Regions from separate parts of the Homo sapiens genome. Here region 2 is linked to region 1. Evidence: fine-mapped expression QTL. A gene starts in region 1. The other region holds a variant in brackets. All regions are shown on one strand. Distances are from middle to middle. Region 1 holds the start of PIGG (phosphatidylinositol glycan anchor biosynthesis class G (EMM blood group)). Region 2 overlaps PIGG (phosphatidylinositol glycan anchor biosynthesis class G (EMM blood group)).

What was found.
Region 2: its variant is fine-mapped to the expression of PIGG in whole blood (TOPMed, PIP above 0.99).

What each region holds. Positions count from the first base shown.
Region 1 is chr4:495,555-505,226 of GRCh38, forward strand. PIGG (phosphatidylinositol glycan anchor biosynthesis class G (EMM blood group)) reads left to right here and starts at 3,656. Exons shown (of 13, transcript NM_001127178.3): 1 at 3,656-3,935; 2 at 4,842-5,047. The coding sequence starts at 3,782. It overlaps ZNF721 (zinc finger protein 721), which reads right to left and starts at 3,602. Exons shown (of 3, transcript NM_133474.4): 1 at 3,502-3,602. RefSeq lists enhancers at 2,888-3,753, 3,317-3,796, 3,754-4,617.
Region 2 is chr4:534,718-544,389 of GRCh38, forward strand. PIGG (phosphatidylinositol glycan anchor biosynthesis class G (EMM blood group)) reads left to right here. Exons shown (of 13, transcript NM_001127178.3): 13 at 4,436-5,483. The coding sequence ends at 4,652. Among named protein-coding and RNA genes, the nearest start is that of TMEM271, 37 kb to the right of the region's middle. The variant G/T (reference allele first, on the strand shown) is at 4,102.

The DNA of each region.
Region 1 (9,672 bases):
AGAAGGAAAAATAATCTTTGTGTGGCAAGTTTTAGAGGAAGTTTGCCATTTCTTCTTTTTTTTTTGAGACGGAATCTCACTCTGTTACCAGGCTGGCGTGCAGTGACGTGTGATCTCGGCTCACTGCAACCTCCACCTCCCGGGTTCATACCATTCTCCTGCCTCAGCCCCCCAAGTAACTGGGATTACAGGTGCCCGCCACCACGCCCAGCTAATTTTTTGTATTTTTAGTGGAGACGGGGTTTCACCATGTTGGCCAGGATGGTCTTGATCTCTTGACCTCATGATCTGCCCACCTCGGCCTCCCAAAATGCTGGGATTACAGGCGTGAGCCACTGAGCATGGCCAAATTAAGCTGACTTTTAACCATTGAGCTCCTTTAAAAAAATCTTTTTAAATCTCATTACCATATTTCGGCCGGACAGAATGCTACTTTCAGAAATACAGCCATTGCTCTTTCGGTTTGGTCTGGCTGGCAAAAAGGTGGCGTTGTTATGTAAATAAAATCCCTTTAGCAGTGAAAATTTAAAAATCTTTTCTCTGTTTTTTCCTTTTGCTGGCCGTTTTCCTCCCCCAACCATACCGCCTTTTTTGTGTGTGGGGGGTAGACGGTTGGGTATTTAGCCGCTTCAGAGGCCTTGTTCCCATAATTTAGAGTTCCCCTTCGGATTTCGCCAAGTCAGAATGTGTGTCGGACCCAAAACGTGCTGCTTGCAGACCTAGCTTTTCAGGGCTGTTACCCCCCGAACTGGTTGGGTTCACCCGTGTGGTGGCCACCTGGCACAGTGTCAGAGGCTCAAGGTGCGGGAGGGGTCACCTCCTTATATGCACCTGCCAGCTGAGATTAGACTCTAAGTATGTTCTTCTGGGGGGGAAACCTATTTAGACCCACTGCATGTCTTAGGCAGCATTCCTCCCAGACACCCTCACGTGATTCTCAGTTGTCTGAGAATGCCCCGAAAAGCTGAGGGGAGGCAGGTGCTCTTATTTCTTCAGAGGGGAAGATTCTACACTCATGAGCTAGAGGGTTTGGAGTTGGTCAAATCCGATAAGGGAAAGGACCAAAACACACAAAAAAAACCCCAACAAGACAGAAACAAACAACAGAACAGGTAAGCAAAACTAACAATGATCACACAAAATACATGACTTCTTTTTTTTTTTTTTTTTTTTTTTTTGAGACGGAGTCTCGCTGTCGCCCAGGTTGGAGTGCAGTGGCGCGATCTCGGCTCACTGCAGGCTCCGCCTCCCGGGTTCACGCCATTCTCCTGCCTCAGCCTTTTGAGTAGCTGGGACTACAGGTGCCCGCCACCGCGCCCGGCTAATTTTTTGTATTTTTAGTAGAGATGGGGTTTCACCGTGTTAGCCAGGATGGTCTCGATCTCCTGACCTCGTGATCCGCCCACCTCGGCCTCCCAAAGTGCTGGGATTACAGGCGTGAGCCACCGCGCCCAGCCTATGACTTCTGAACGCTCTAAGTGTAAGCAGAAATAAACACCAGCTGGTTGTTAATGTTATCTTTAGTCATTTAAAAAGAATTTGCAAGACAAAATTCCAAATCAATTTTCTTACCTAGTGATGGGGCTCAAGCTGAAGACGGCTATCTGTCGATGCAGAAGCAGGCAGGCTTGCCTTCCTTGATGAAGCGAGTGGGAACTCCCAAAAAAGGAGTTTTTTAACAGCAAATAAACCTCAGACCCCCCACCGAAAAACGTTGGAAGATCAGGGATCCCTGGAGGAACAAGGTCCCAGATTTCAGCAATCATCCTACCAGTTTGGGCAATAAGGTGCCAAGCCAATACCGAGGATCAATAGGCGAACTGCTGCAGGCCGGGTTACCTTCACTGAGGATCTCTCAGTGCTTATCAATGTCAATCGAGAAAAATGACAAGTCTTAATCATTTCAGGAGGCTTATTTCCCAAAGTTAAGGACGCCCATGACACAGCCTCCGGAGATCCTGACGACGTGGGTCCAAGGTGGTCGGGGCACAGCTTGGTTGTATTCATTTTAGGGAGTCACGAGATATCAATCATATGTATAATAACAGGCCGGACAGGGCGCGGTGTCTCACGCCTGTAATCCCAGCTCTTTGGGAGACAGAGGCGGGCGGATCACGAGGTCAGGAGATTGAGACCATCCTGGCTAACATGGTGAAACCCGTCACTACTAAAAAATACAAAAAAAAAAAAAAAATTTGACGGGCGTGGCGGCGGGCGCCTGTAGTCCCAGCTACACGGGAGGCTGCGGTAGGAAAATGGCGTGAACCCGGGAGGCGGAGCTTGCAGTGAGCGGAGATGGTGCCACTGCACTCCAGGCTGGGCGACAGAGCGAGACTCCGTCTCAAAAACAAACCAACAAAAAAAAAACAGGCCGGGCGCGGTGGCTCATGCCTGTAAATCCCAGCACTCTGGGAGGCCGAGGCGGGCGGATCACGAGGTCAGGAGTTCAAGAACAGCCTGACCAACATGGTGAAACCCCGTCTCAACTAAAAATACAAAAATTAGCCGTGCGTGGTGGCACGCACCTGTAATCCCAGCTACTCAGGAGGCTGAGGCAGGAGAATTGCTTGAACCCGGGAGGCAGAGGTTGCAGTGATCTGAGATCACGCCACTGCATTCCAGCCTGGGCGACAGAGTGAGATTTCATCTGAAAAGAAAAAGAAAAAAAAAAAAAAAAAAAAAAAAAGAAGGACATTGGTTCTGTCCAGAAAGGCGGGGGCAACTTGGAACAGGGAGGGGGCTTCCAGGTCACAGGTAGGTGACAGACAAATGGTTGCAGTTTCTGGGTTTCTGATAAGCCTCTCCAAAGGAGGCTATCAATATGCATTTATCTCAGTGAGCAGAGGAATGACTTTGAATAGAATGGGAGGCAGGTTTGTCCTGAGCAGTTCCGAGCTTGTCTTTTCCCTTAGTTTAGTAATTTTGGGGCCCCAAGATTTTCCTTTCAGAAAAAAGAAAATGTGGTATATATACACAATGGAGTACTATTCAGCTCTAATAAAAGAATGAAACCCTATCATTTGCCACAACACGGATAAACCTGAGGATATCATGTAAGCAAAATAAGACACAGAAAGACAAATACCTCATGATCTCACTCATGTGGCATCTTTAAAACGAAGTTAATCATTAAGATATTTACCAGTTGTCTGAGGTATTGGGTTGAATTTTCTTTTTTTTTTTTTTTTTGAGACGCAGTCTCGCTCTGTTGCCAGGCAGAAGTGCAGTGGCGCGATCTCGGCTCACTGCAACCTCCGCCTCCCAGGTTCAAGCGATTCTCCTGCCTCGGCCTCCCGAGTAGCTGGGACGACAGGCACCCGCCATCACGCCCCGCTAATTTTTTGTATTTTTAGTTGAGACGGGGTTTCACCATGTTGGCCAGGATAGTCTCGATCTCCTGACCTCGTGATCCGCCCGCCTCGGCCTCCCAAAGTACTGGGATTAAAGGCGTGAGCCACTGCACCCTGCCTTCCAAATTAAAAACTTTTTAAAACCTCGTACCTCGCCGTGGGCGGCGACCGTCGCGGACTCGCCGGGAAGACGGCCCCACGGAGCCGGGAACACCGCCCGCTGTTCGTATGTCCGAGGTGACGCCCCGCTGTGGCGGGCTGGCGGAAGTGACGCGCTGCTGTGGCGCGCCGGCGGACGTGACGCCACTGTCGCTGCGACGATAAGGCCTGGCGTTATTGCTTAGAGGCGGCTACCTGGAGCCGGAAGCGCGGCTGCAGCAGGGCGAGGCTCCAGGTGGGGTCGGTTCCGCATCCAGCCTAGCGTGTCCACGATGCGGCTGGGCTCCGGGACTTTCGCTACCTGTTGCGTAGCGATCGAGGTGCTAGGGATCGCGGTCTTCCTTCGGGGATTCTTCCCGGCTCCCGTTCGTTCCTCTGCCAGAGCGGAACACGGAGCGGAGCCCCCAGCGCCCGAACCCTCGGCTGGTACGGACCCCTCCCCGGCGTCTCCGCTCCCCTGACCCCACATCCCCTAGAAGACCTTTTTTCTGAGCCTCGCTGCTCGGATTTCTTCTCGGCGCTCCCCGGTGGTCTCTTCCATTATGGTCCCCACCTCAGAAATTTTTTTTAACCGCTCCAGCGTCTCTTTTCTGTATTCTTACAACTTTGTGGCAACCACCTCTACTGGCCCCACTTCGACCTTCCTTCCTGATCACCACAAAGTAAGCTGTGTCCATACCTGGGATCCAGCCTCTCCACTTCTACTCGTCCAGAGCTCCCGCCCCTTTCCTGAGCAGCCTTTGGGTCACTCCCCGTTATAGGCGCCCTTTTTGCCCCCTAGCACACAACAGATAAGACCCCTGCCGATCCCCTCGCGTTTTGGTCTCTTATATTCCTCCAAGATGTTTTCCCTGCCTAGGGGCTAAGGCCTCTCTGCGTTAGGCCTCTTCCTAGGCTTCACCTACCCAGCCATATACAGCAAGTAAAGGCGCCCTGGTTCTGGACCACTTGCACACATCGCCAGCCGCTGACCATGTAAACGCAGTATGTAAACGCCCAGCCATCCCGTAGCTGCAGCTCTGCGTTTTAGGTCAAGCTCCCTAAATGTCCCATTCCAGGACCCTTACGTAGGGATTCTCCTACCCCAGTACTCTTCACCATACTGAGGATAATTCACTGCTTGCTACTGTGGGTCCCTAAGATTACTCCTGTTAACCCCCGTCCTTTCCCCCCAGCACTACCTACCAAGTACAAGTCGCCTCCTTTTGGGTTGGGTTATGTAGATATCGCAGGGTATGTGCTGGAGAAGTAGGTAGAAGCTAGATTGTGAAGGTGCTTGATGCTAAGGAAAGTTTAGAGTTCAATTTCCTTTTTTTTCTTTCAAACACTTAGGAGCCAGTTCTAACTGGACCACGCTGCCACCACCTCTCTTCAGTAAAGTTGTTATTGTTCTGATAGATGCCTTGAGAGATGATTTTGTGTTTGGGTCAAAGGGTGTGAAATTTATGCCCTACACAACTTACCTTGTGGAAAAAGGAGCATCTCACAGTTTTGTGGCTGAAGCAAAGCCACCTACAGTTACTATGCCTCGAATCAAGGTAAGTTTGCCTTAATGTTTTATGAATCATGGTTTGGCTGTTTTGAAGATTTAGAGGGGGTCTCTGTAGTCTTTCGCTTGGAGTTGCAATTTTAAGAAAGTGGAAATTTTGTGCTGTCAGTTGGCTGGGGCAATAGAATGTTGAAGGAGCCTCACACGGGATGGAACTGAGACCCATCATTTGTGCCCCATGTCAAGTAGCCAAAGCTCATGCTTCATGGCAAATATAAAAGATTTAGAGCAAGATCATCCAGGCTAACCTACCCCAAGATATGCCATTCTTGGTGACCTGCTTTCTTCTTTAATCGTCACTGGGTCATTTACAATCTTAGAAGGAGCCTTTAGAGTTAATCTAGTTCAGTCTCTAGACTTTATAGATAGGAAAGCAAACTCAGATAAGTTAAATGTGACTTCTCCAAAATTATCCACCAGTATACATAATGATCAAATCAGTATGTTCCGGCCTCAACAATTACCACTGTTTCCACCATATCCTTCAGGTGTCCAGCCTACTGACAGCAGCTTTGAAGTACATAGTGCATTTCCCAAGAACCGTGGGTAAAGAAAAAAGTAAGCCTTTATTGATTGGCTCAAAACTTTTGAGCAACGACTATGTGGTGATACTTCAATGGGTATGCAATTGGGGAAAAAATAGTATCTCTGCCTTCATGTAGCTTTTAGTCTTTAGATATACAGCCACTCAACAAAGGAGCATATGAAAACATGCAGTTGTAAAGTGTGGTTAATGCATGATGAGAAAGAACAGGATGTGATGATTAGTGGGTGAGAAAGCCTGGCTGAGGAAATTGCATTTAAACTGAGACTGGAAGGATGAATAAAGGTGGGGACAGAAAGGAGCAGAGGGGTTGAAGTGTGTGAGTGTATCGCATGTGAGCGTGGCATAAAGTCTCTGACGGAGCCTTAGCTGTGTTGTTGATCATGTGAAACATTATTTGGTGAGAAGGAGCTACTTATTGATTTAAGGCTTGGGGGCAGCCCCATTTGCAGATGCTTGGCAGATGTTCACTGGATGAAAGCAGTCTGAGACTGAAGGAAGCACAGTGCCATATCACTCACTGACTTTTTCCTTGAATTTCTTACTCTCTCTGCCGCATTTCAATGTGATGTGACTTCCTTCAGCAATATTTATTGAGCATCTACTGTGTGCCACACTGTTCCAGACAGGAGGGAGGCAGTGAAGAACAAGACAGCATTGTCCTCATGGAGCTTACTTTCTAATTGGAGGGATAGAAAATCGGTAAAATATGAATCAATGAAGATGGTTTCAGACAGTGACAACTGCTCTGGAAGGAATGGAGAGGGAGGTGAGAGAGAATGAAGGGGAGAGGGGCATGCCCGGCACCTTTGAACACAGCACTCAGAGTTTTTGCCGTCCTGCTGAAACTAGCTGTGGGAATCTGGAAGAAAGACATCCAGCCCCTGATTTTCAGGAACACCGGTTTCTTTATCTGCTCTATCAGAAGTGTGGAAGGAACCCTTTTCTCCTTTTCTTTTAAGATTTAACAGGCAGATTTGAGAAAATGTATAAGTGATTGTGCAGGTTCTAGGTTCTATTCAGACCAGTCCGTTGGCACTGTGGTTCTTGGGGCCTCTGTCTCCAGCTTATTGGTTTTATTTCACCTTTGCTGGGGAGCCTCACCCCAGAGCTAGTGTTTTGTTTCATTTTCAGTCCTTTGAGGATTCTTGCTCCTTATTTCCCCATCAGGGAGGAGCTAGAACAGAAAGCCCATACTGGAGTTAGGATTGTACAGCTCTGGAGTTTGGTAGGTTGGGGTTGGGCAGTGTTGGTTGAGGAAAGTGTCCCCTGCCCTGCCTCCAGTCTGAGAAAGGGCTCAGAGCATCTCCTGGTGTTGATACATTTGTAACCAGACGCCAACCCTGACATGTCCAGTGTGCTTTCACTTGCTAAGACCCTGCAGCAGCTTTGTTTTAAAGTCATGTAACTCATTTTTGAATGCCTTTTCTTTCTTAAAGAACTTTCTGGTCATAATAATAGCTGGCATTGATTGACAGACCTGAGCTTTCCCTTAGATTTCTTAGGACTGTAAATGCAGCCCACTCGCTGTCTGCACGCTTTCTGGGATGAGGGGATGCCAAGTAGTCCCTACCCTCTTTAAAAATATCGGTGGGAACCCAAGCTAGTGTGAGGATGAGGGAGGTGCCTTGTAAAAGCCACAAAAGAAGGGATGAAAACAGAAAACTTTTATATTGTCAAATGTTGTAAACAAAGTCAACAACATGATAAACTGAAGAAATTATTGACAGTGGACATGGCATACAAGATGTTAAGTCCATGATGTATAAAGAGGTTCGGATCAAGGAGGGACAGTCCTATGGAAACTGGGCCGAGTATATAACGGAATCCACCAAGGAAGAAAGCGGAATGGCCAATAAGCATATGCAGAGATTCTTGACTAGTAATCAGAGCAGGGCAAACAAAACAACCCATATGCCAGTTTTTGTTTATCATATTGTAAAAATTTAAAGATTGATGATCTCTACCCCGCACAAGAAACGAGGTGAACAGGTGCTCTTGAAATACTGTGGATGTGAATACAGGTTGACTGAGCTGGTATCTCCACTGCCACCACCGTCGTCCAGGCTGCTGTGGGCTCCAGCCTGAACTGTTATAAATGCCCTAGCACCTTTTCTTGGCCCAAATCACTTCTGGACACAAATCAGACCCTGCTACACTACTCTTTAAAACCCTTCAGTAGTTTACGCTCTGCCCAGTTTGAACACTGAACCCCATCACCCGTCCCTCAAGGCTCTGCGTGGCCTCACTCCCGTTTACCTCTTCATCCTCATATAGGCCCCCTTCCGTGTTCCCTTGCCCTTCATCCACACAGGTCACACGCAGCTCATTTCCTCCCGGGTGCTGCTGTCTTTTCTGCCTGGAGCCTTTGCAGTTTGCAGGTGTTTTACTCTGGAAAGTCCCACCTCACCTCCACAACTTTTCAACCTTCAGGTCTCAGCTCAAGTGGCACTTCCATAGGAAGCTGTTTAAAATAAATGCCCAGTAAAATGGTCTTGGTTAAATACGTTATTGTACAGCTACACACTGGAATGCTCTGTAGCTGTTTGGAAAAAAGATAAAATGCTTGTGTTTTCCCTAGGTAAAGATGTTCATGATGTGTTATTAATTGAAGAAGTTTGAGAGTAATTTGTATAGTTTGCTACCATTTTGGTAAAAAATGTGTACCTTCATATATTTGTGATTTTATACACACACACACACACACACACACACACACACACACACACAGAAAAGAGTCCAAAAGGATACTCACCAAGAGTAATTGGCTGCCTTTTAAGGAGTACAATTTTGGGGTGAGGTTCACATTTTAAAAAATAACTATTGAAATATAATTTTTATACAATTACATTTTTGCATGTACAGCATTTAACAAATGTGTGTATCCAGGCAAACCCCACCTCAGCTCAATTCTGGCCCCACCCTAGGAATGTTGGTGGCTGTTAGGGTTATTTTGGTTGTTTGTATAGTGAGTTCCTGCAGTCTGTCTCCCCGGGAGCGTGCGGCAACTGATGTTTTGACTTAGGTCTTTTGGTTCTTTTGGTTTTTAAGTTCTTGTTTTTATCTTTAAGCCTGTCTTCCTGAGTGCTGGCCCTGGCTCCGCATAGCTTAGTGGTCAGCCACTGATTGGTCAGAGGTTGTGCTTCAGCACCCCTGATGTGTTTTCATAACCTCCCTGGGTGTGGGGCTTCTCAGTGGCTGCTGCAGCGTGGAGCTGGAAAGGAGGGAAGTGGGAGCCGCCCTGTGTAGAAACACCATGGGCACTTGCTGTTCTTACTGAGATTCCGTGTTTTTTCTTAAATAAGCACTTCTCAATCTGTTCTATAATTTTGGTGAATTTCCAAAGTACTAAAATGGTTGCTTTTGACAGTTTCATCCAGTTTTATTATTGCTCCTGGGAGAGAGATTTTGCCGAGCTCCTCCCTGTGGCATTCCAGAAGTCTGGATAATTCATACTTGCATTTATTTATCGTTAAAGATGTCTCGGTAAAATTATTTCACCTGCTGATGTTACCCAGGTTCCCGTTTATTTTCATTGCACAGGTTCCAGGATGCCAGTGCTGGCTGGGGTGGCTGTATAACTCTAAATCACAGAGATCTGTTACCCATTACCATGGCCTCTTAGGTTCTATGCTAAACTCAGGGAAATTCTTGACTCAATTCTATTATCAGAAGGGTATAAGGGCAAGTCACCTCCCACCCCTCCCAGAAAATATGGGGCAACATTGAGGGTGGGAGCAGAAGAGACTATCCCAGTGGCCTCCCTGGCCCCCAGTTCACTTTGCAAATTGCTGAAAGTTCACGCTTTAGGACTGCTTTCATCCTGGTTTTCCACTCAAAGGTAGACATTGGAATTGCTGGATTGTTAGGAGTCGTATGGACTTTGCTTGTCACGTGGAGATTTGAATCTTAATTGGGACCTGGCAGAGGCTTTGAATACACAGGTTAATGTTTCTAATGTATACCTCACTTTGCCGTTTGCTTCAGCTACATCGCAAACCCATAGCTGCTTCTCTGGCTGTTGCCGTCGTCTCGCTATCCCTAGCCGCCTCCTTTAACCTCTTGTCAGC
Region 2 (9,672 bases), 39 kb after region 1:
CCAGATCAAGGGTGCAGTGCAGCCCCTCATCCACATCCCCATCTCCTGGCAGCTTTGTGCAGATGTCCCCGGGGGATCCCAGATCAAGGGTGCAGCCCCCCATCCACACACCCGTTTCCTGGCGGTTTTGTGCAGAAGTTCCCCCCGGGGGACCCCAGATCAAGGGCGCAGCCCCCCATCCACATGCCCGTCTCCTGGCGGTTTTGTGCAGAAGTTCTCCCGGGGAAACCCAGATCAAGGGTGCAGCTCCCCATCCACACGCCCGTCTTCTCTGCAGCGTTCCCACCGCCGCACACTCTCTGCTTCCTCATCGTATGTTTCTTGCTCCCCCAAGAAAGGAGGCTTTGTGAGGCAGGGGCTTCACCCGCTCTGTTCACCATAGCAGCCTCAGTGCCTGGCCTGGCGGAGTCAGGTGCTGAGTGGAGTGTGGCGGGGGTGGGTGATTCTGTACCTCCCAACTTGGTCTGGCAGAGACCCCAGGGCCTGCAAAGTTATTCGACTCACATGTGCCTGGTTTTCCCATCTGTAAAACGGGAGTTGCTGGGAGCTCAATGGGGGACACTTGGAAGCGTTCACAGCCTTTGGAGGGGCTAGTGGCCCCTGCGGCATCTACTAGAGTGCCCCGTGCTCCACGCTTGTCCCTGCTGCCAGCCACAGTCACGAATCCCCGCAGCGCCTATGCATTTCTGCGTGTGCTGAAACCGCGCACCGCGGCCCGGCCTCCTCCCGGGCAGGCGAGCGTCTGGGACACTGACTGGACCAGCCTCCCGCACTTTCTGGGTGGCTTTGGGCAGGTCAGCCAGAGCTTTGCGTGTGTCCTGTGGTGACCGGAGGCCCCAGTCCTGCCGGGAGCCCCAGGGAGCGCGCTGTGGCCTCTCCGCTGAGCAGTGAGGCTGGAGGGCTCCTACGTCCTCCCATGACTGAACCGTCGCTCTCGCGGTGCTGACTGCTGAGCCCCCGTGCCAGCCCTCCCAGGACACTTGGAGGCTTCTCCTGCCGAGCTGCCGGCGACTCCACAGAGCATCTGCACGTTTCTGTGGTCCCGCTCCGCCCTCTGGCTTCTGCTCCACAGCCTCCTTCACCAGGTCATCCTCTCAGCTCCACGCAGGTCCTCTCCCCGCCTCACTCCCCTCCCCAGACCAGCTCCTGAGACCCAGGCCACAGGGACCCTTGGCCTTGCCTCCAGACCCAGATGCCCAGCCCCCTGTCGACATTCCGCAGAGGTGTCCTCGGGCTGACAGGACTGAGGAGCCCTTTACAGGACATGCGGGCAGGGCCCACGCACCCAGGCACGCACACCCGTGCCTGCCTTTGAGCTTTTCCCACCCTGAAAGGAGCCCCTCGCCGCTCACGTCCTGTGTTGAGGCTCTCACAGCATGAGTGCTTCGGAGCCAGAGGAACCGTCCACCATGGTGGAAGTGTTCGTGCCCCGCAGACTCGGCGGGCCCGGGCTGGACCCCTCAGTCGCTCACAGGTTTCCGTAAGGGGTCGGGGGAGCATTGGCCTTGCTTCAGCAGTGATAGGCGCGTGCCTTCCCACAGCGGACATGGAGCCTTTCCAAGGGGAGAATCGCTCCCTGGCCAGACTGCAAGCTTCCCGGGGACAGGAATGCCTGAGATCCACCTGCCTTTTCTTCAGGTGCCTGTGGACGCTTGACACGCCCACTTTGGGGCAGTCTGTGGACAGACCCCCGTAATTTACAGTCACCGCTGAGCTTGTCATCACAGCAGAAAGCTGAGGCTCTGCGGGCGGAAGCCACCAACAGACCAGCTTGGGAGACACCCACTGTGGCGGCGCTGTGTGGAGACGTCCTTCCAGACTTCGATTCTGCATAAAAACAAACATCTGCCACGAGACCCCTGCTCGGCGTCCGCCTGTCTCAGCAGCTGCCCTGGGACGTCTTTCTCTGACTTGGTTTTGAGGCCAGCCGCGTGCTCACACTGGCCTTACAGAAACAGGAGACGCCGTCCTCGGCCGTCTGGGGTGGGCTGTCAGCACGTCGTGTGGTCAGGTGTCAGGACAAGCGGGCGTGAGCGCGTGGAGGTGCATCTGCCTCTGCCCTGGAGAACGGATGTGCTACAGCTGTGCGCGGCGTGATCAAGCACCTGTTGGGTGGACGGCACACCTCCCAGTGGCCAGCTGGAGACGGAGGGCTGGAAGTACTTGCCCGGCTCCTCTCTCTGTAGGTTTGGTCTTCGGCCTTGCAGCTGCCCTGGTGCTTGCAGATTGCGGTTTGATGGACCAGGCACTTTTCATCTCTTACACAGCCAGGCACGTTTGTGTTTGGGAGGGAAAAAGACAAATATTAAGTGAGGTGAAAGCATTTTGATCAACTGGAGAGTATCATGATATTTTTCCTAGTCAAGAAGCATTTCTCCTTCATTTTATAGGGTTTTCTTCTTCCCTTTTAAAAGTTTAAAGCATCAAGTTTTACTCATGGTTTCTATTTTGTTTCAGTAGAGTAGGAAAACTATAACCAGGTCTAAATTGTAGACAGAGAAAATATGTTTCCAAAAGGTCAAAAACGTGGCCTTGAGTGGTTGGCGACCCTCTGTTCCAGGGGCTGGCACCCCGGGCTGCCTGCTCCCCTGCAGCGCAAATGGCTCTTTGCTAAAGTGGTGGGAACAGCAAGCCGCCATCTTCTAGGTGGGTAACGCTATAAAGTGTTAAACTGAAGTCAAGGTGGTGCCATGTCTAAGCCACAGCTTCCCCATGCGCTGTCTGGGTAGGATGGGGCCACGGCCCACTTAGCCACGAATCTTCCTGCCCAGTATGTTCACCTTTTCCTGGGTGTTGCTGTCACCAGGAGGTGTATTGAGGATACCTTGGGGTCCACCTCCCTGTGGGGTCCCCGGCCTGTGGGGCTGGATACCAAGTGGTGACCAGCGGTACGGGTTTGGGGGACCCGCCTAAGGAGCCAGGGCCTGGCAAGGAAAGCAGTGAAAGGACCAGAGGCACCGGCCACCCACCGGGAGATCCCAGGGTCTGAGTATTTTACTGGAGCACATGGCGGGCTGAGGTGAAGGAGTGTTTGGAGAAGCCAAGAGGAGGATGGGCCCCTCCAAGGCCTGAGATGGGGAGCCGGTGGGGGGCTGAGGTGAGGCTGTGGAGGGGCCAGAGACAGCCCCGTCCTTGGCCCTTCGTGGCTGTTGACACCCTTTCCTGAGCAGTGAGCACTGAAGCAGGAGCCACTTACAGGACACCCTCAAGTAATACCTGGTGGAGCTGCTGGGCTGACAGGACTGAGGAGCCCTTTACAGGACATGCATGTGGGGCCCAGACACACATACGTGCCGACAGGACTGAGGAGCCCTTTACAGGACATGCAGCGGGACCCACACACCCACACACACGTGCTGACAGGACCGAGGGGCCCTTTACAGGACATGCAGCGGGACCCACACACCCAGACACACACACGTGCCGACAGGACTGAGGATCTGGGGGCTGCCTCCGGGCCCTTTCTAACAGAACTTGATCAGAGGTCATGGATGAGGCATGGAAAGTGCCCAAATAATGTAATTTATCATTTTTCAATAATCACAGACTCAGGGAAGTTGCTTTGAGGAAGAGATTTATGTAGTGTGTTGGTGGTTTCAAAACTAGGGGGTACATTAACATACTTCGAGGGGTGGCTCTTATTCCGAGAATTTGCTCAGCAAACCCCGCTGGGCCAGTGTCCCCAGACCAGACAGTCCTCCACACCACAGCAGGGAGAAAAGCTCAGAACTTGTATTTATGTTTATTTGTATCTCACCCTTTTGTGATTTTCTATTCATCGTTTGTATTTTATAATGCATGTGATATAGTAGCACATGCATATATAATTTTTAAATAACTGCAAAGTCTGGGGGGTGCGTTTTTCAGAGCTGTTTTACAGATGACGGTGGCAGACAGTGGCTGAGCAGTTGGGGCTGCAGCTCATGTCCCCTCGGGCACCTCCGTGCCTTCTGGAGACTCAGACCTCTGCCCACCCCAGACCAACCACATCCAGATTTCTGTAGGGGGGGCTCCAGAGTGGCACTTCCAGCACATACTGTAGGTGATTTTTACATACAGTCAAGTTTCAGAAGCATTTCTGGAGAGCTCAAGGTGTGTGTG[G/T]GGGGGGACATGGTGGCCCTCACCCATCCTTCTGTTTGCTTCATTTTTCTTCATGAATTTGTCTCTTCCTGACATGTTACATATCTGGTTTCTCCTGCCTCCTTCACTAGAACACAGCCTCCAAGGGGGCAGGTTGGGTTTTCCCGTCTCCAGCGCATCTGGAGAGGCACCTGTCCCAGCACCATAGTGACTGGATGTGTGTGCAGAAGAAGGAACGCGGTGCCCTCTACTCCAAGGGCAAGAGCTACTGGAGTCTTTTTGAAAATAAAAGTGTTGTTACATGTGTGATATGTAAGTGGCATGTGCTAATACACATTTTCTTTCTTATTAACAGTGGTTCAGCACTGAGTCATGCTTGCTTCTGCTACGCACTGATTTGTTCTATTCCAGTTTTCACGTACATCGTTTTGGTGACATCTCTGCGTTATCATTTATTTATATGGAGTGTATTTTCTCCAAAACTTCTCTACGAGGGAATGCACCTGCTCATTACAGCTGCTGTCTGTGTATTCTTCACGGCAATGGATCAAACCAGACTCACACAGTCTTAGACTAAGCTGAACACTGGAAAAATAATACATGCTTAAAGTCTGCTGTTATTCTAAAATGAAAGATATGAATTCAACAAAGTTGATGGATAACTTTCTTTGACTGCTCTACCTGAATTTAGACTAAGCAGTAAATAGTTTAATAAAAGATCACTTTAATATACAGTTTGTATCATATTTTCCCCCATTGACAATCACTCTAGAAGCTTCTGAACTTTTAATTTCCTCTGAATAAGCTATGGTGTGACCCAAATATGTGTGTTTAAATCAATGAATGAAAAGGTTCTGGACTTTGTTAGAGTCCAGGAGCTCTGTGGGAGGAGGCACCCAGATTACCTTAGGGAGCACAGAGCTCTTAGAATCCTACAAACCACTGAGGGCCCCAAGGCGCTTTGGTTTATGAGGGTTACATGTATCAGTGTTTATGGCATTTGAGATGAAAACTAAGATAAAAAAGTATTCATTTATAAGGAATCTATTGCATATTAATGAAACACTTGAAGGAAAAGTAACTATATTTTCCAAAACAAAAAAATTCAGTGAGACCCAGCACTTTGGGAGGCCAGAGTGGGGGTATCACTTGAGCCCAGGTGTTTGAGATCAGCCTGGGAAACATAGTGAGACCCTCATCTCTCCAAAAACTTCAAAAAATTAGCTGGGCGTGATGGCACACACCTGTGGTCCCAGCTACTCAGGTGGCTGAGGAAAGAGTATTGTTTCAGCCGAGTTCAAGGCTGCAGTGAGCCATGATTGTACCACTGTACTCCAGCCAGGACAACAGAGTGAGACTCTTGTCTTTAAAATGAAAAAATAAATGTTTAATGAGAAAAGTGATAATGTTTTACATTTTTACAAACCTCTTTAATGCCTGGCCTAATTGAAGCTAGTTGGATTTTGTGTTTGACCTGTTGTGATATGTGTGTTTGGTTACAATATAAGAAGAAAATCGGCTGGGCAGAGTGGCTCACACCTGTAATCTCAGCACTTTGGGAGGCTGAGGCGGGGGCAGATCACCTGAGGTCAGGAGTTCAAGACCAGCCTGGCCAACATGGTGAAACCCTGTCTCTACAAAAATACAAAAATTAGCCAGGCATGATGACAGGTGCCTGTAATCCCAGCTACTTGGGAGGCTGAGGTGGAAGAATCGCTTGAACCAGGGAGGCAGAGGTTGCAGTGAGACAAGATTGTGCCATTGCACTCCAGCCTGGGTGACAGAGTGAGACTCCATCTCAAAAAATAATAATTATTATATATATATGAAGAAAATCCAGCCTCAGATCAGTAGTTGGAAAGAGGAGGCATATTTTAATGTCCTTTTTCTGATTATTGTGGATGTTCTTTTTTGATACCAACACCAAATCTTTTTTGATGCCAACACCAAAACTCAACAAATGTTAGTTTGCTGAAGGTTAGTTGGACAAAAAGAAAAGAAACGAGTGCATATAAAAACTGGTGAAATGCTACTGAGGGCTGTATTCGAATTAATAGAATTGTGCCCACATCATTTTCCTGGTATTTATCTGGTTGTGTAAGATACCATCATTGGGGGGAGGTGGGTGAAGGATATGTAGAACTCTCTATACTATTTTTGCAACTTCTTGTGAGTCTTCAACTATTTCAAAACAAAAGTTATTTTGAAAAAGAAAAGGTTAGCTGCCATGTGGAATCTGAAATCATATCAATGAACTTTCATGTCCTGATGCATTACGACACATTGACCTGTCTTGCACCCTGAATGGAACTTTTACCCAGATGTGATTCTTAACATCTGCATTGTTGTTTGGAAAATAACAGTTCACTGGATGATAGAAATTTCCAAATGTTGTTCATTATTCCATACCAAAATCACTTATTTATATCACAACCGAGCTCATCAGAAAAGTCTTTAAAGAGTGAATGGTGGCTCACGCTTGTAATCCCAGCACTTTGGGAGGTTGGGGAAGCAGGAGGATCGCTTGAAGCCTGGAGTTTGTGACCAGCCTGGGCAATGTAGTGAGACCCCATCTCTAAAAAAAAAATTTGAAAATTAGCCAGGTGTAGTGGTATGTGCCTGTAGTCCCAACTACTCAGGAGGCTGAGGCAGGAGGACCACTTGAGCCCAAGAGTTCAAGGCTGCAGTGAGTTAGGATTGCACCGTTGCACTCCAGCCTGGGCAACAGAGCCAGGGCCCATCTCTAAAAAAATAAAAATGTGAAGAAAAAAAATCTCACCATCCAGAAGAAACAGTCACTAACAGTTAGTGAATACAGTTCACTAAATGGAAGAAGCAGGGAGGATGCATAGATGCATACATGAAAATCATACTATATATTTATAAATATTTTATATAAATATATATACAAATAATATATAAATATATATACAGATAATATTTATATAAATATATATGCAAATATATAAATATGTTCATGCAAATAATATTTTATATAAATATATGCAAATAATATTTTGTATAAATATGTATGCAAATAATATTTTATATAAATATATATGCAAATATTTTATATAAATATATGCAAATAATATTTTATATAAATATATTTATGCAAATATTTATATAAATGTATATACAAATAATATATAAATATATATTTATGCAAATATTTATATAAATATTTATACAAATAATATTTTATATAAATATATATTTATACAAATTATATATAAATATTATATATAACTTTTTAATCCAAAGTAGTTATATAAGTTTTTAATTTAACAGGAAAAGTGAAACCAAAGAAAAGGCTGAATTTTGAATAAATGTTTCTTCACTACAAGAAATATACAATATTCTTTTAAAATTAATTTCTTATAACATCTATTAAGAGAGCTGGTAGCTAACAGAGAAAGGGCAGCTTCTCAGGCAGAGGATACACAAAGCCTTGTTTCAATTGGAAGGCTGATTGTCCACATCAAAGAGTTTCTGCCTCTTCATATCTGTAACTATGGAATATTGATAGGACAATGCAATGACAAGATTGATACTGTTTTAAAGTATTGTTTATGCTATACTTTAATTCATTTATCCTCAGTGGAGCCCTGTGACCAAGTGGATTTTTTTTGTAACACCAATAACTTGATCAACTTTGACAATACAATCAAAAGATGTTTGGAGGGGAAAACACTAGAGGGATCATTACATGGTAAAGTGATTTTTCATCCATTCGGCCACTCTATGTCTTTTGATTGGAAAGTTCAATCCATTTACATTCATTATTATTTATAAGTAAGGATTTACTCCTGCCATATTACTTGTTTTCTGGTTGTTTTGTGGCCTTCTTTCTTGCCTTCCTGTCTTCCTTTAGTGAAGGTGATTTTCTCTGGTGATATTATTTAGTTTCTCACTTTTTATTTTTTGTGTATCCATTGTATGTTTTCTGGTTTGAGGCTACCATGAGGCTTGCAGATACTATCTTATAACCCATTATTTTAAGCTGGTCACAAGTTAGCACTGTTTGCATAAACACACAAAAAGACAACAATAAAAAACTCTAGTTTTTATTAGTCCCCTTAACGAAATTAGAAAACACCAAGCAGAAATTCTGGAGCTGCCTTTGTCCCCCTTAACTTTGTCCCCCTGCTTTTTAGCTTTTTGTTGTTTCTATTTATATGTTAATTGTACTGTCTATGTCTTGAAAAATTATTTTTTATTGGTTCATTGTTTAGTCTTTCTGCTTAGGATAAGGGTATTACACACCACAGTGGGAGTGTTATGATATTCTGTGTTTTTCTATGTACTTACTATCACCAGTGAGTTTTGTACCTTCAAAGTGATTACTTATTGCTTATTGACACCCTTTTCTTTCTGACTGAAATAGTCCCTTCAGCATTTCTTATAGTACAGGTCTAGTGTTGATGAAATCCCTCAGCTTTTGTCGGGGAAAGTTTATTTTTCCTCCATGTTTGAAGGATATTTTCACCAGATATACTATTCTAGGGTAAAACTTTTTTTCTTTCAGCACTTTAAGTATGTCATGCCACTCTCCTGGTCTGTAAGGTTTCCACTGAAAAGTCTGCTACCAGACATATTGGAGTTCCATTATAGGATATTTGTTTATTTTGTCTTGCTGCTTTTAGGATGCTTTCTTTATCCTTGATCTTTGGGAGTTTGATTATTAAATGCCTTGAGGTAGTCTTCTTTGGATTAAATCTGCTTGGTGTTCTATAGCCTGCTGGTACTTGGATATTGATATATTTCTCCATGTTTGGGAAGTTCTCTGTTATTATCCCTTTGAATAAACTTTCTGCCCCTGTCTGTACCTCCTCTTAAAGGCCAATAACTCTTAGATTTGCCCATTTGAGGCTATTTTCTAGACCCTGTAGACATGCTTCATTTTTTTTTATTCTTTTTTCTTTTGTCTCCCCTGACCGTGTATTTTCAAATAGCATGTCTTCAAGTTTATTAATTCTTCCTTCTTCTTGATCAGGTCTGTTATTAAAGGACTCTGATGCATTCTTCAGTATGCCAGTTGCATTTTTGAGCTCCAGAGTCTCTGCTTGAATCTTTTTAATTATTTCAATCTCTATGTTAAATTGATCTGATAGAATGCTGAATTCCTTCTCTGTGTCATCTTAAATTCATTGAGTTTCCTCAGCTATTTTGAATTCTTTGTCGGGAAGGTGACATATCTCGTTTCTCCATGATTGCTTCCTGGTGCCTTATTTAGGTCGTTTGGTGAGGTCCTGTTTTCCTGGATGGTATTGATGCTAGTAAAGACCACAGTTACTTTTGCACTAACCACAGTTACTTTTGTACTAACCTAGTAAAGACCACAGTTACTTTTGCACTAACCTAGTAGATGTTCTTCAGTGTCTGGCCATTGAAGAGGTAGACATTTATTATAGTCTTCACTGTCTGAGCTTGTTTGTACCCCTCCTTTGGAAGGCTTCCAGGTATCTGAAAGGACTTGGTGTTGTGATCTATGCTCTATCTGCCTTAGGGAGCACCCCAAGCCCAGTAACACTGTGCACCACCTTGATGGTCTTGAATAAGATCCAGGAGAACTCTCTGGATTACCCGGCA